Regions from separate parts of the Homo sapiens genome. Here region 2 is linked to region 1. A link means that fine-mapping ties the variant in region 1 to the expression of a gene that starts in the linked region. Tissue or cell type: minor salivary gland. Region 1 holds a variant in brackets; the other region holds the start of a gene. All regions are shown on one strand. Distances are from middle to middle.

Evidence for each region. PIP is the estimated chance that this variant, and not a neighbour inherited with it, causes the effect.
Region 2: ABCA7 starts here. The variant in region 1 is fine-mapped to the expression of ABCA7 in minor salivary gland (GTEx, PIP 0.98).

Annotation. Positions count from the first base shown.
Region 1 is chr19:1,927,977-1,935,976 of GRCh38, reverse strand. No RefSeq gene overlaps it. Among named protein-coding and RNA genes, the nearest start is that of CSNK1G2, 9.2 kb to the left of the region's middle. RefSeq lists enhancers at 6,146-6,235, 6,334-7,216 and a silencer at 6,333-6,627. The variant G/C (reference allele first, on the strand shown) is at 4,623.
Region 2 is chr19:1,036,253-1,044,252 of GRCh38, reverse strand. It overlaps ABCA7 (ATP binding cassette subfamily A member 7), which reads right to left and starts at 4,146. Exons shown (of 47, transcript NM_019112.4): 1 at 4,057-4,146; 2 at 2,826-3,028; 3 at 2,650-2,743; 4 at 2,281-2,422; 5 at 2,077-2,189; 6 at 1,856-1,938; 7 at 1,427-1,507; 8 at 1,002-1,212; 9 at 780-919; 10 at 412-528. The coding sequence starts at 2,891. It overlaps CNN2 (calponin 2), which reads right to left. Exons shown (of 7, transcript NM_004368.4): 6 at 7,691-7,837; 7 at 5,188-6,628. The coding sequence ends at 6,353. RefSeq lists enhancers at 2,302-3,099, 4,992-5,491, 5,492-5,993, 5,581-6,140 and a silencer at 3,011-3,150.

The DNA.
Region 1 (8,000 bases):
ATCAAGTGACTCATGCCCTGGGCTGAAAATGTACATGACCTTGCAATTTTCCTGAATTTGCTCCAGGAACAAGAGACAAAGCTAATTCCCAGGAAGAGGAGGAGGGATCTGCCCTGTAGTTGCCCTTGACCAGGTCCCTGGGCCTCAACCTTATCTATAAAAGGATAGAGTTGAAGACGGATTGAACTGCCAAATTGGTTTCCTCCTGGTGCTGCTCGATTGATTGGTGATGTCTGCTTTGTGCATGGGAGGGAAGCAGTGTGGGCATCATTGGTTGATTGGTGATGTCTGCCCTGTGCACAAGAGGAAGGAAGGCAGGACAAACAGCAGCGTTCCCCAGTCAACCAACATCATTGCTTGATTGGTGATGCCTACCCTGTACACAGGAGGAAGGAGGTCAGGAGAAACATCATTCGATGATTAATTGGTGATGTCTGCCCATGTTGCCATGTTGGCCAGGTTGGTCTCCAACTCATGACCTCAGGTGATCCACCTGCCTCAGCCTCCCAAAGTGCTGGGTTTACAGGCATGAGCCACTGCGCCTGGCCCGATTCTACAACTTTTTTCTATTTCCTCATTTTAGATCATTCCAGAACTTTCTGGGAATTACACCCAACAGTCTCTAGTAGGGCATAAACACAGACTTGGGGGAAAAGAAGACCTGTCTTTGCAGCCAGTGGCGACACCCCTTCCCAGCTGGGAGGCTGGGCCTGCCCAGCACTGCATTCCCATATGCAGCGCAGCCAACGGAACAGGGCGACGTCAGGAAGTTTTGGTGGGTGAGGAAGCAGCACAGAGCAGGGTCTGCCCTCACCCCCACCAACCGCAGGGACAGAGCCTGGCGGCAGTGGGTGGCCCCAGAGCCAAGTGTGGGGCACTGGGATCTGCCTCTTCACAGGGGCACGGGATCCAGTCAGAGGATGGGTGACTCTGAGAGAAGTTTCTCTCCTTTGTCTACTTTCTCTGCTGTCCCAGAGAATGAAGGCTCATCCTGCAGCGTCCTTTGAGGGTACATGGCTGTGTGTTTGTGTGTCTGTGTGGGATGCTGTGTGTTGATGTTTGTGTGTGTCTGTGTGTATGTCCATGGATGGGTGTATGTTTGTGTGTTTTGTGTGTCTGTCTATGATGTAACATGTTGGTGTGTGTGGATACATGTCCATGCATTTGTATTTTGGGTTTTTTTTTTTTTTTGAGACGGAGTCTCGCTCTGTCGCCCAGGCTGGAGTGCAGTGGCGCAAGCTCCACCTCCCGGGTTCCCACCATTTTCCTGCCTCAGCCTCCCGAGTACCTGGGACTACCGGCGCCCACCACCACGCCCAGCTAATTTTTGGTATTTTTAGTAGAAACGGGGTTTCACCGTGTTAGCCAGGATGGTCTAGATCTCCTGACCTTGTGATCCACCCACCTCGGCCTTGCAAAGTGCTGGGATTACAAGCGCGAGCCACTGCGCCCGGTCATATTTTGTGTTTCGTGTTTTGTTTTTCTGAGACAGGGTCTCCCTCTGTCACCCAGGCTGGAGTGCAGAGATTCAATCATAGCTCACTGCAGCCCTCACTTCCCAGGCTCAAGTGATCCCCCTGCCTCGGCCTCCCAAAGTGTTGGGATTACAGGCATGAGCCACCGCAACCGGCCTGCATTTTGTATATGTGTTTGTTGTTTTCCAGTGTGTATGTCCATGTACATGTGTGCACGGGTGTGTGTGTGTTAGGTGTGTCTGTGTGAGGTGGCATGTTGGTATGTGTGGTCCATGTGTTCATGCATTTGTGTCATATGTATCTGCGTACATGTGTGCATATGTATGTGTGTGCACATGTCTGTCTCTGGGTCTTTGTGTGCGTGGGTGTGTGTGCGCACCTGTGCATCTGGGTGTGTGTGTGTGTGTTCGTCGGTGGGTCTATGGGGGGGTGTGCATTTGTGTGCCTGTGTTTGGCATGCCTGTGTGTGGTGTGTGTTGGTTTGTGTATTGTGTGTGTGAGCATGTGAGTGCCTGCATGGGGGGTATTCAGGAACGCTGCTGTGAATGGCATCGCTCAGCGTCAGGGAACCGTCTTGCTCCAGGTTTTGGGCTGTTTCATGGAGGCTGGGGGATGTTCTTGTTGATGATGCAGCCCACTTGGACTTAACTTATTTTTGGTCATATTGCACCTAAATGGTCCTCCTGGCATTCACTCTGTTCATTTGCCCCTGGTGCCTGGGGACTCCTCCCATGGTGGTGACCAGGGTCTCTCCCACATCTCTTGTCACCAAGGCCAGCCACAGAGGGCAGCCTGCAGTGGACAGGGTGCAGGACAGGGCAACAATGACCATGATGCTTCATGGAAGATGTGAGCTCCCCCCAGGGAGCCTCCCATCCAGAGCCCCCACCCCTCAGCTCGATGGAATGCCCAGCCCCTTGGTGCTGCAACCCCAGTAGGAGGGTGGCATCCTGGACCCAGGCAACAGGGATGCTGCATGCCACAAACACTGAGACACAAAGAAGAAGTGGTTCAAAAGCTGGGTGTGATGGTCACAGATTCTTTGCTGCTCCTCCCACGGAAAGACACAGTTCATTTCCCCTCCCCTGAATGTAGCTGCTCCTGTGACCTGTTTTAGCAACAGAAGGCAGGGGAAGTGGTGCCTTGAGACTTCTGAGGGAGGGTCTTACGAGCTCGACAGTAGGCTGGGCATGGTGCTTACACCTGTCATCCCAGCACTTGGGGAGGCCGAGGCGGGCAGATCACCCGAGGTCAGGAGTTTGAGACCAGCCTAGCCAGCACGGTGAAACCCTGTCTCTACTAAAAATACAAAATTAGCTGGGCGTGGTGGTGGGCACCTGTAATCCCAGCTACTCGGGAAGCTGAGGCAGTAGAATCACTTGAACCTGGGAGGTGGAGGTTGCAGTGAGCCGAGACTGCGCCATTACACTCCAGCCTGGGTGACAGAGTGAGACTGTGTCTCAAAAAAAAAAAAAAAAAAAAAAGAACTCAACAGCGTCCTTTCTGCTTGGAACCCAGCTGCCATCTTGTGAGGCAGCCACCTGGAAGCCCCTGGGTGATGGCACCACTGAGCAGGCACCACCTGCCAGCCCTGTGAGTGAGCTACCTCAAACATTCCCGGCCAGGGAAAGCCACTAAATGATTGCTGATTACCCCCCATCACCACAGGGAGCAGAACTGCCCAGCTGAGCCCGGACACCCCGCATCATGTCAGATATAATCCACTGCCATTCTACCTTAGCCACCCCAAATCCCTAGGGCTGAATGAGGTCATCAAATAATGATTCCTCTCCCACTTTCTCCCCTCTGCTAGTCCCTGGCAGACTGGAGGATGGCCCAGAGGCAGCCAGGTGAGGGGTGACGCCCTTCAAGGCCCTGCTCCAGTGGTCCTCACCAACTACAACCGCCCTGCAGAGCCCCGCTGTGCCCTGCACCTGCTCCCCGGCCCTCATGCCGCTGCCAGGAGTGTCTGTGCTCATCTGTCTTCTCTCCCCTCCAGCCTGAGAAAGCTCCTTCTTCCCACCCCTTACCAGAAATATAAATTGGCCGGGCGCGGTGGCTCATGCCTGTAATCTCAGCACTTTGGGAGGCTGAGGCAGGCAGATCACGAGGTCAGGAGATCGAGGCCATCCTGGCTAACATGGTGAAACCCCGTCTCTACTAAAAATACAAAAAATTAGCCAGGCATGGTGGCGGGCGCCAGTAGTCTCAGGTACTTGGGAGGCTGAGGCAGGAGAATGGCGTGAACCCAGGAGGCAGAGCTTGCAGTGAGCCAAGATGGTGCCGCTGCACTCCAGCCTGGGTGACAGAGTGAGACTCCGTCTCAAAACAAAAAAAAAGAAAAAAAGAAATATAAATTTACTCCTTGCCCCTTCTGTGTTTCAAAGGAGGGTGGCTTTTCAAAGTCCCCACAATGGGGACAGCATTCGAGGCTGCCTCAATGGCTGGTTCCACTTCGCAGCCCCATCTATCCATCAGGACGCCCTCTGCACCCATACTGACTTGTTCCTTTCCAACCCACCCTGACCCTCCACCCATCTGAGCCTTGTCTGGCTTCTCTCAGCCCAACAGGTCTGGCAAAGCTCAGGCAGATGATCACCTCTTTTGGGAGGACTCCATGATACATCAGGCCAAATGAATCCAACCCACCAGCCTCTGGAACTGCTTTCGTCCATGTACTTATGTGTTCTGCCTTCCATGATGGATATTCATGGTCTGTCTGCCCCACTAGGCAGCAGCTCCTGAGGACAGGAACTAAACCTCTTTAAAATGCCTTCAAAAACCCTGCCATGCACCCTGATACAGCCCTAGTTAGTGTACATATTATTATCAGGTTTCTGAAGATAATCCAGGAACACCTATTGTATCAGTCAGCTACTGCTGCATAACAAATTATACCAAACTCAGTGGCCTAAAACAACACATGTCTTTGTGATATGACTGGTGAAATAAATTAAGCAAAAACAAATTATTATTTTTTTTAATAAAAAAGAAGAGGCTGGGAGCCATGGCTCATGCCTGTAATCCCAGCACTTTGGGAGGCTGAGGCAGGCAGATCACCTGAGGTCAGGGGTTTGAGACCAGCTTGGCCAATATGGTGAAACCCAATCTCTACTAAAAATACACAAAAATTAGCTGGGTGTGGTG[G/C]CGGGCGCCTGTAGTCCTGGCTACTTGGGCGGCTGAGGCAGGGAAATCTCTTGAACCTGGGAAGCAGAGGTTGCAGTGAACCGAGATCGCACCACTACACTCCAGCCTGGGCAAAGAGCAAGACTCCATCTCAAATAAATAAATAAATAAATAAATAAATAAAACAAAAATAAAATTAATAAATAAAACAACAGACATCTTATCAAGTTTCTGGGGCTCAGAAGACTGGAAATGACTCAACTGGGGGGCCAGGCATGGTGGCTCATGCCTGTAATCCCAGCACTTTGGGAGGCTGAGGCGGGTGAATCACCTGAGGTTGGGAGTTTGAGACCAGCCTGACCAGCAAGGAGAAACAGAAACCCTGTCTCTGCTAAAAATACAAAAGTTAGCTGGGCATGGTGGCACATGCCTGTAGTCCCAGCTACTCTGGAGGCTGAGGCAGGAGAATTGCTTGAACCCAGGAGGTGGTGGTTGTAGTGAGCCGAGATCACGCCACTGCACTCCAGCCTGGGCAACAAGAACAAAACTCCGTCTCAAAAAAAAAAAAAGAAAAGAAAAAAATGACTCAACTGGGTGGCTCACGCCTGTAGTCCCAGCACTTTGGGAGGCTGAGGCGGGTGGATCACTTGAAGCCAGGAGTTCGATACCAACCTGGCCAACATGGCAAAAACTAGTTTCTACTAAAAATATAAAAATTAGCTGGGTGTGGTTGGTGGCGTGCACCTGTAATCCCAGCTACTTGGGAGGCTGAGGCAAGAGGATCGCTTGAACCTGGGAGGTGGAGGTTGCAGTGAGCCGAGATTGTGCCACTGCACTCCAGTGTGGGCGACAGAGTGAGTCTCTCTGTCTGTCTCTCTCTCTCTCTCTCTCACACACACACACACACACACACACACACACACAGCTTGAGATTGTGCGTTCATGCTGGGAAATCGTGAGACATCCCAAACATCACATTCACCCTCCTAAATTGCTGTTGGAAGGCGATGGCTCCCTCATGTGGAAGAAGGATTTAGCAGTGGGGTTTGTGGAGGCGTAGGCAGGGTGAGGGGCAGCAACGCGGAATGACACAGCCCCTGGGGTTGGCAACAGTGGGCGCCTTACAGGTGGGGGATGGGCTGCAGAGAGGGACCCCCATGGACAGGCTGTCCTCTAGAGGGAGGAGGCCAGGGACCGACAATCGGCCTCACTTCCCCTCCCTCACTCTTCCTCCCTCACTCTCCCAGCCCCCTGCCCCCTGGTGCAAGTCCCCAGCTGGACCCCGCTGGGATGGAAGCTGAAGCCAGAGGGTTGAGGATCCGTCCCTGCAGTGCCCCCAGGCCTGGGTCCGGGCGTGGAGCTCAGTGGCAGGGGTGGAGGGGGAGCCTGGAGGGCCCAGCCCAATGAAGCCATCACAGTCACTCTTTTAGTGATGCCCACCCCGGGGACTCACCACCAGGGGCAGTAGCCATGGGGGGGGGCACACGATGCCCCCAGCTGCCCGCCAGGTCCCCCGCCATGCCTGCAGTTCCGTCTTCCTTTCCTCATTCCCTGGATCGCCCCTGTGACCCTGAAGGGGACGTGGCCACTCAGGAGCCACATCATGCCGGCTGCACCTTGTCCAGAGGCGGACACTCCCCATTTTTTTTCTTTTCTTTTCTTTTTTTTTTTTTTTTTTTGAGAAGGAGTTTCACTCTTGTCGCCCAGGCTGGAGTGCAATGGTGCGCTCTCAGCTCACTGCAACCTCTGCCTCCCGGCAGATTCTCCTGCCTCAGCCTCCCAAAGGGCTGAGATTACAGGCGTGACCCACCCCTGCGAGAGTTTCTATTAGAACCTGAAGCCCGGGAGCCAGGGCAGAGCCCGTCCGACTGGAGTCCGAGGTCGCCCTCTGGCGGCCGAGCGGAGGGCGGCGGGGTCGACCTCCGAAGGGAAGACGGGGCAGTGACTGGGGCGACAGTTTGCAGAAAGAGGGGCGTGATATTTAGGACGCACAGCAGAGGCTGCGGTCCCCGTCAGTACCCTGCAGCACCTGTCACTCCTGAACATGTAAACGCACACACGCATTCACACATGCAAACACGCATCGGTTTGCTAGGGCTGCCTTGACAGGTACCGCAGACCCGGCGGCGCAAACACCTGTTTATTCTCTCTCGGTTCTGGGGCTGCGAGTCCCAGACGAAGGTGTGAGCGACGCTGGATCCTTCTGAGCCCGAGTGGACTCTGTCCCAGGCCTCTCTTGGCGGTGACCGGCGTTCTTGGCTTGCGAAAGCTTCACCATGGTGTTCGTCCTGTGTGTGTCTGTGTCCCAAATTTCCCTTTTTTTTTTGTCTTGCTCTGTCACCCAGGCTGAAGTGCAGTGGTGTGATCTTGGCTCACTGCAACCTACACCTCCCGGTTCAAGCGATTCTCCCACCTCAGCCTCCCAAGTAGCTGGGATTACAGGTGTGCATCACCACGCCTGGCTAATTTTTTGTATTTTTAGTAGAGACGGAGTTTCACCATGTTGGCCAGGCTGGTCTTGAACTCCTGACCTCAGATAATCCACCCGCCTCGGTGTGCCAAAGTGCCGGGATTACAGACGTGAGCCACTGCACCTGGCTTTTTTTTTTTTTTTTTTTTTTTGAGATAGGGTCTCTCTCTGGCACCCAGGCTGGAGTGCAGTGGCGCCGTTAACAGCTCACTGCAGCCTCAATCTCCTGGACTCAAGCAATCCTCCCACCTCAGCCTCCTGAGTAGCTGGGAATGCACGCATGTGCCACCATGCCCTGACACTTTTTGTATTTTTTGTGGAAATGAGATCTTGCTATGTTGCCCAGACTGGTTTCAAACTCTTGGTCTCAAGCAATCCTCCCACCTCGGCCTCCTGAGTAGCTGGGACTACAGGCGCATGCCACCATACCTGGCTAATTTTAATTTTTTTTGTAGATATAGGGTCTCACTATGTTGCCAAGGCTGGTCTTGAACTCCTGGGCTCAAGCAATCCTCCTGCCTCTGCCTCCCAAATTGCTGGGATTACAGGTGAGAGCCACTGGGCCCAGCTCAAATTTCCTGTTTTATGTAAAGGACACCAGTCACACTGGATCAGTGCCCACCCTACTCCAGAATGAAGTCATCTTAACTATATAATTTCATCCTCAATGACCTTATTTCCAAGCAAAGTCACATTCTGAGGTCCTGGGGCTTAGGGTGTGAACATATGGGTATTGGGGAGGACCTAATTCAATCTGTAATAAAGCACAGACACTCATAGACACACAGATGCACATACACACACACACATACGATACACACGCAACACAAGCACAACACACACAGACCAGCATCTATGACTCTCTACCTGAGGGCGGAGCTAAGCCTCCCCAGCCCCCATACCATTTGCAGGGGAGTTGGAGGATAAAT
Region 2 (8,000 bases), 890 kb after region 1:
AAAAAAAAAAAAAAGCAGGACGTGGTAGTTCACGCCTGTAATCCCAGCACTTTGGGAGGCCGAGGCGGGTGGATCACGAGGTCAGGAGATCGAGACCATCCTGGCTAACATGGTTAAACCCCGTCTCTACTAAAAATAAAAAAAAAAAATCATCCGGGCGTGGTGGTGGGCGCCTGTAGTCCCAGCTACTCAGAGGGTGAGACAGGAGAATCGCTTGAACCCGGGAGGTGGAGGTTGCAGTGAGTCGAGATCACGCCACTGCATTCCAGCTTGGGCGACAGAGCGAGACTCCATCTCAAAAAAAAAAAAAAAAAAGTGGGGGTCTGCACGGAGCCCACCTTCCCATCCACCGGGCCTGTCTACCCTCCTCACCGGGGAGCCACATCCCACCTCCCCAGCACCCCCGCACACCTGCAGCATGGCCACATTGGAACTGTCGTTCATGAAGGTGAAGATCCGGGGTCCCAGCATCTCCCACACCTCCCGGACATCCCTCAGCAGGGTGAGCTCCTCGAAGGTCCGGTTCACCTGTGGACAGCACCCCCTCCACTGATGACCCTCTCCTCCTCTGAGGACCCCTGCCCACCCCCTGCCCCCTCTGCCTTGCTCCTGCGTGTGCCTCTGATCCTCCGCACAAGCTGATCCCCCTCCATCGGCTAACTCCTACTTCTTCAAATAGTTTCCGTGACCCTCCGGCCTGGCCCTGGCCCACCTGGACTGAGGGTACTGGATGGGCTCTGGCCACCACCCTCCCACCCCAGCATCCAGGCTGCCCCCACCTGGGCCATGAGCTTCCGGGTAAAAGGTGTATCTGGTGCAAAGAGTAGCTTCCCGAGGATCAGAGGCTTCAGGCGTCTCCAGAGCAGGCGGGACAGCGGGTGGCTGTCCAGGGCTCCAATCAGCTCCGAGCAGGCGGGGCCTGGGATGGGGGTGCCATGAGGCCCTGCCCCCCTGCCCAGAGTTCCACTTCCCAAGAGGGGAAACCGAGGTCAGTCACTCACTCAGGCTGCTGTCTGGCAGGGCGGATTCTGGCTCCTGCCCCACCAGCTCCATCAGGTCACTAGCCTCGTACCAGTTGAGGGAGGGGCCCACTGTGCTGCTAGGTCCCCTGACACTGCAGAGGGCCTCTGACAGCAACTCCAGGGGGCCGCTGGTCCCTCGGGGTCTCTGCAGCAGTGCCCGAAGCTCCACCAGGCTGCGCAGCGCCAGGAGCTAGAGAGAGGTTACCAGACGGAGCTGGCAATGATCCCACCTCCAAGCCCTAACCAGGGCAGGGCACTGGGCCAGGGGCAGCCTCTCCCTCTCGCTGTCTAATCCTCCTGAAAACCCACCCAAGGGAAGTGCCCGGGCTGCCCCAGACCCTCCCGGCGCAGGCTGCCTGCCAACGTTGCCTCCATGGGGGTTGAGGATGAGTGGGGCCTCGTACCTCCTGGGCCAGGTCCTCAGCGGCCTCCAACAAGCTGTGCAAGGGCTCCTGGGCTTGGCCCAGTGCCAACCCCAGGGATTCCTGGGGAGAAAGACCACAAGGGGGACAATGATTTTGAACACTCACTAGGGGTCCAGCGCTCTGGCCAGTTCCCAGGCAGACCATACTATCATAGCCCCCACTTTACAAATAGGGAAACTGAGGCTCTGAGAGGCAAAGGGACTCATTGGAGATCTCACAGACGAGTCTTCCTCACTGGGTCAGACACACTCTGTCTGGGGGCCCAGACGGACAAGCAGCATCACCGCAGAGACCAGGGACAGCCTGGATGCCTGGAACGGGAGGTCCTTGGCCCGGGGTGGGGCAGTGCCAGGACATCCCCAGTGCAGTGTCCCAGGAAGTCAGCGCGGTCCCGCCCCGACACCCTACCGTGCGCAGCAGTGACGTCAGCAGCTCCGCGACATCCAGCATGGGTGGTTCCAGTGGAGACTGCTTGGTTGGTTGAGGCTGGGCTGGGGGAGGAGCGCACGGGAGCATGGGGCTGGGGGGACGTTGGTCTGAGGCACCCACCCCCACCCTGTGCCCATTTCACGGCCCGGCAAGTTGAGGCTCAGAGCTCAGCCCTGCCAGAGGCCCCCCGGCCTCCTCACCCGTGCTGCGTGCAGCCCTCAGCGTGGCGATCAGCTTCCCTAGGCCAGCCAGCGTCCTGTGGGCACTGGCCCCTCCCAGCACAGTGCGGGCATCGGCTAGCAGCCGGGAGACCCTGGGGACAGAGAGAGGGCAGGAGGCGGGGTTCCGGCCGGCACTGCAGCCCCGAGTTTGCAGGCCGGCCGCACCCACTGCCTCTGGCTCACAGGGAGTCGTTGAAGTTGCTCAGGCGCCCGGGCTCCTCGCCCGGTGTCAGCTGCGGAAAGCAGGTGTTGTTCACATTACAGATGAGACCCTGGAGCCAGGGCACGGTGCCCGCCGATGGCAGTGGCTTGTTTGGGAAGTGGCCTGCGGGGAGACGCCTGGTGCTGAGGCCCTGTGGACTCTGCCTGACTCCACCCCCATCGGGTCGCCCGGCACCGCTTGCATGCCTCCAGCGATGGAGAGCTCACTCCCATGCCATGTATTGGCGGCCTGGTGAAGGCTCCCTGACATGCACGGGGGATTCCTGTGCACGGGTGAGCCATCTGCCTTCCCCTACACACACAAAGTGCCTGGTCCCTGGGGGGGCTCACATTCATGGTGCTCCAGGGGCGGGTGGGAGTGGCGAACAGCCACCAGGATGAAGAAGAGGAAGAGAGGCCACAGCAATTCGACCAGGAGCTGGACCTGGGGGAGAATAGGTGGGAGACGGTGGGGGACAGTGGGGGCTGCCTGCCCACCCGGCCCTGGTCTCACACTGGGGCGTTACCGGCTGTCTCCGGCGATACATGAAATTCTTCCAGAGCAGCAGCATCAGCTGTGTCCAGAAGGCCATGGTGAGACTGGGCAGGGGACGGGACAGAGAGGTCAGGACAACGGTCGGGCTGAAGACGTGCGGTGCGGCTGCGGGCAACTCCCTGCCCCTTTCTGAACCTCATTCCTTTATCCCACAGCGCAGGGTTCCTGGAAGCTCTGATTAGAGCGAGGCAAACAGTAGTCACTCGATAAAGAGGCTCCGCTACCCCAGGGGTGGAGTAAACCAATGGGAGCGCAACCCGCAGCCGTCCTCGCATCTGATTGGCTGCCAGGACTGTCGCTCTGAGCAGGGCTGACAGCTGGGGACTTAAAGATCATCCTCTAATCCTCCAGGGACCGAGTTTGGGCTTAACGCTTTCGTCACCAGGCTCCACCCCAAGCCTCACCTGGAAGCCTCTTCCAGGTCCTGACCCCCAGCCTCCTGCCTGGCCCAGCCCAGGCAAGGATTCCTTTCCCCTCACTGTTCTCCGAAGATAACAGCAACGAATATTGGCAGTGCTGGACATTTCACACGCCCAGGGGAAGTGCTGGACTATCACCCCACTCTACAGAAGTGGAAACCGAGGCCCAAGAAAGCAAACCCAGGCACCCAGAGAGACAGGCAGTTGCCCAGCTGGAGGCACGACCCCAGCTCTGCCCACACCTTATGTAGCATTAATCGCTCAGAGGGACCGCGGGAGCCAGAGAAAGAGTCAGGCGAAGGGGCTGGGATAGAGACTCCTGGAGTCAGCGATTCCTGATCTATTTTCCTTGGGCCGGTCCACCTCTGACACAGATGGAGAATCTGACGCTGACAGAGGGGCAGGAAGTTGCTAAAGGTGACCAGGCCGGAACTGGGACCTCAGACCCAGACCCTTACGCCAGGGTTCTTTCCTTTACATCAAGCGGGACTTAGGATCTGGGGGAGTGGGCTCAGTTTCTCCATTTGTAAGACGGGGCAAGGGGGAGTGCAGGAGTTCTAACGGGCAGGGGGCTGCAGGTGTGTGATCGGCAAAGGCCCTCTTAAGGGTCCCAGATGTCCGATGCCCCCCTTGAGAATCAGTGATCAATTCAGCCGTCGTCAACATTCACCGGAAGGAGGTCAGAGGCTGGACCCCCTAATTCCCAGGGAACTTGCATCCCTCCCGGCCCCAACCCCGCATTCTCGAGTCTCGGGCCTTCTTCCCTCTCCGAGTCCTTCTCACCTTCCAGGGGCTCCGCAGCTCTTGCCGCCTTCCCTCCGCCCAGCAGCAGGCAGGGAGCGCGCCGCCCCTTAAGCCAAGTGCGCTGAGCTTGCCCGCGCAGGTAGCAGCGCCGGGGCACGCCCCTGCCTCTGCACGCTGCTATTGGGCGACCTGCCCGTCACTCACTGGCCTGCTCCGTCGGAGCTGCGCGGGCCAAGGGAGGAGACGGGATCACAGAAGGGCCTCGCCTAGCCGGGTTTCTTAAAGGGACCGCGCGGCTCTTGCTGCATCACCGTAGGGTGGCGGAGTGCCCGGCAGGTCCCAGGCAGGCCGCCCTCCGGGAACGAGGCTGCGCTGTCTTTGGGGAGCCAGGCTGCCTCCCCACGTTGTATAACCGGCTGCAATACCGCAGCTCCGAATTGCAGGAGTTCCCTCTGTCCCCGCTGTCCCCGGGGCTGGCCAGGCTCCCTCTAGTTTAGTCCAGACTCTGGGACTACACTCGTCCGTCTGTAAAGTAGGGGTTCCACTAGATCATTCGTTCATTCATTCATTCCACGAACGCTCCTCGGCTTCTGCAGAGGATGGCAGGAGGGGGAGGGGGCCAACATTCTAGAGTCTCCGATTATAGTGGCTACCCTGATTTTGAGGAAAACCCGTTTCCCACTCTGGAAGAAGAGTTGAAATAAACTCTTCAGGCTGGAGGTGAAGCTGAAATGGGAGCGTGTGGGTCCACAGCTTTGAAGGCGCTGGGGAGAGTGAGAGGCGTGGGGACGGCTCCCGCGGCAGGAGGTGGCATTGCCGTTGGGGCTTTGAGGATAAATAGGAGTTCGCCAACGGGGAGACATCCAGGCTGAGGCCACGAGACTTGCGCTGTAAGGTAGAGTGCAGCCAAAGCGCATGGGGGGCATTTGAGGGAACTGCCTCTTCTCCAAATGGCCAGGAAGCCCAGCCTCTCCCTCTACCCCAAGTCCCGGCCCTTCAAATCATTCATTCCACCCAGACTCACCTGTGGCTTCAGCTTTTGCTCCTCCTCCCAATGGTGAGGTGGACATTTTCCCCTTGATCCCCCCATCCCCCAAGACCTCCTCTCTCCCCACAAAAGCATCAAAGCAAAGCACGCCCTCATCGACGCCAACTCTCTTGGCCACCTTCTCTTCGTACAAACAGAGGTTTTATTGCGTTTGGTCCACAGTCGTATTTCACATTATCTCACGGAGCAGGTCCCCTGGGTGGGGGGTCCCTGTGCAGTACTTGGCGGGGCATGTGGCCGGGGAAGATGGAGCAGTATAAGCTGGTCGGGCCCAGAAGGGAGGAGGGCTGGGGGCTCCTTAAAACCTACTGAGGGGCTGGGCACGGTGGCTCACACCTGTAATCTCAGCGCTTGGGGAGGCGGAGGCGGGCGGATCACACCTGAGGCCAGGAGTTCGAGACCAGCCTGGCCAACATGGGGAAACCCCATCTCTACTAAAAATACAAAAATTAGCCGGGCGTGGTGGAGCACCTGCAGTCCTAGCTACTCAGGAGGCTGAGGCTGGAGAATCGCTTGAGCCCGGAAGGTGGAGGTGCAGTGAGCCAAGATGGCGCCACTGCACTCCAGCCTGGGCAACAACCACAACTGAAAAAAAAATCTACTGAGGCCAGAGTGGGTTGGGGCGGGGAGCATGGAGAGGGGGTCAGGCTTAGCCCCAACAACTCAGAATTTCACTTCCTTGTACGGCCCTCACTTTCTCCACCTGGCCCCGGGGCAGGTCTGAGGGTCTGAAGTCTGTTGGTCTGAAGGTCCTAGGCAAATCCAGTCACTTGGGAGCCGGAGATATTTAACATCACGGCCCGGTCCCCTTTCCCAGGGGACTCATTTCCTAGCACTCTCTCCACTGTCCTTGCCCCACCCCTGGGGGAAAAAATGTATTTTTCTTTTGTGAATACTTCCTGAAACTTGCGGGCATAGAAACCACAAACTGCTCAGCTGACAAAAGGGGGAAGAGGCGAGGCAAGCAGAAACCGTCGGGGACCGGTTCCTTCCAAGCCCAGGTCTCTTCTTCCCAGCACAGCCTGAATGTGCCAGCAGGGACCCTCGCCCTACACGTATTGGGATATGGCCTTGACCCCTTCCCCCACAGCCCAGTGGCTCAGCCTTGCGAAGGATCAAGGCAAAGGGGAAAAAAGCTCTGCTGCCTGATCCCACGCTGACACTCACAGACCCTTGGTTGACTGGCAGCACTGAACGGGTTAAGAAAAAAAAAAAAAAGATGAAAACACAGAAAAACCCAAAAACCCAGATGGGCAGACGATGTGGGGAGAGAGCGTGCTGGGAGCCTCAGTAGCCGGCCTCCTCCTGGTAGTAAGGGGGATATTCAGGGACCTCCCCCGGGTCCGGGCAGTCGCCGGTGCCCGAGGGAGCCCCATCGGCCACTGTGCCTTGCGGGCAGTACTTGGGGTCATATATCTGCCGGCCCAGGCCGAAGACCTGGCCGCTCTGGTTGGCGCCCTGCGTGTAGCCCATCTGCAGGGACATGGAGGAGTTGTCACACTTGTCGGTTCCCAGCTTGGTATCATAGATGTGCCGCCGGGTCCCGGGAGCCGTCATGCCCACCTGGAGAGGAAGGAGGGGTGGAGCAGGTCATGGTGGAGAGAAGAGGGGACCTTCACTGGGTGCACTGGCTCACGCCTGTAATCCCAGCACTTTGGGAGGCCAAGGTGGGAGGATCACCTGAGGTCAGGAGTTCCAGTCCAGCCTGGCCAACACGGTGAAACCCTGTCTCTCCCAAAAATACAAAATTAGCTGGGCGTGGTGGCACATGCCTGTAATCCCAGCTACTCGGGAGGCTGAGGTGGGAGGATCACCTGAGGTCAGAAGTTCAAGACCAGCCTGGCCAACACGGTGAAACCCCATATCTACTAAAAATACAAAAATTAGCCGGGCGTGGTGGCGGGCGCCTGTAGTCTCAGCTACTCGGGAGGCTGAGGTGGGAGGATCACCTGAGGTCAGGAGTTCAAGACTAGCCTGACCAACACAGTGAAACCCCGTCTCTACTAAAAATACAAAAATTAGCTGGGTGTGGCCGGGTGCGGTGGCTCACACCTGTAACCCTAGCAGTTTGGGAGGTCAAGGCGGGTGGATTGCCTGAGCTCAGGAGTTCGAGACCAGCCTGGGCAACATGGTGAAACCCCATGTCTACTAAAAATACAAAAATTGGCCGGGTGTGGCAGCATGCACCTGTAGTCCCAGCTACTCGGGAGGCTGAGGCAGGAAGGAGAATCTCTTGAACCCGGGAGGCAGAGGTTGCAGTGAGCCGAGATCGTGCCACTGCACTCCAGCCTGGACAACAGAGTGAGATCCTATCTCAAAATAAATACATAAATAAAATAAATAAAGATTAAAAAAAAAGAATTGGGTGGACCTTTGGGCAGTCCTTAAGGGAAAATGACACAGGGTGAGGTAGTAACTTCCCTAGAGACCCACAGCCAGGTGGAAATGACAGAGGCTGAAATCCAAGGCGGAGACAGAGAGCGGGGAGGGAAGCCGGAGGTGGTCTAGGGAAGGGGCTGAGACTGAGAGTGGGGAGAGAAGCTGGAGGTGGCCCCAGGGAGGGGCCGAGACCACAGGGTGTAGAGGGGCAGGGAGAGGAGTCGGGGGCACCCGGGCGAGCCCCACCTGGCTGGCACACTTGTTCGTGCCCATCTGGAGGCTGATGGTCGAGTGGTCCATGGGGGGCAGGATATGGTTCTTGGGGTCATAGAGATGCCTTCTCGTGCCGTAGGCAGTCATGCCCGACTGGCTGGCGCATTTGTTGGTGCCCATCTGCAGGGAGGTTCGTGGGAGAGGTCAGACTGCACCCAACAAGCTTCCGGTCCCTCCCTGAAATTGAGGGACCACAGGGCTCCATGCCGCTGTCCCCCAATGCTGCTGTCCCCCAACACCGTGGTCCCCCAATGCCGTGGTCCCTGGGGCTGGGGGAGCTGTC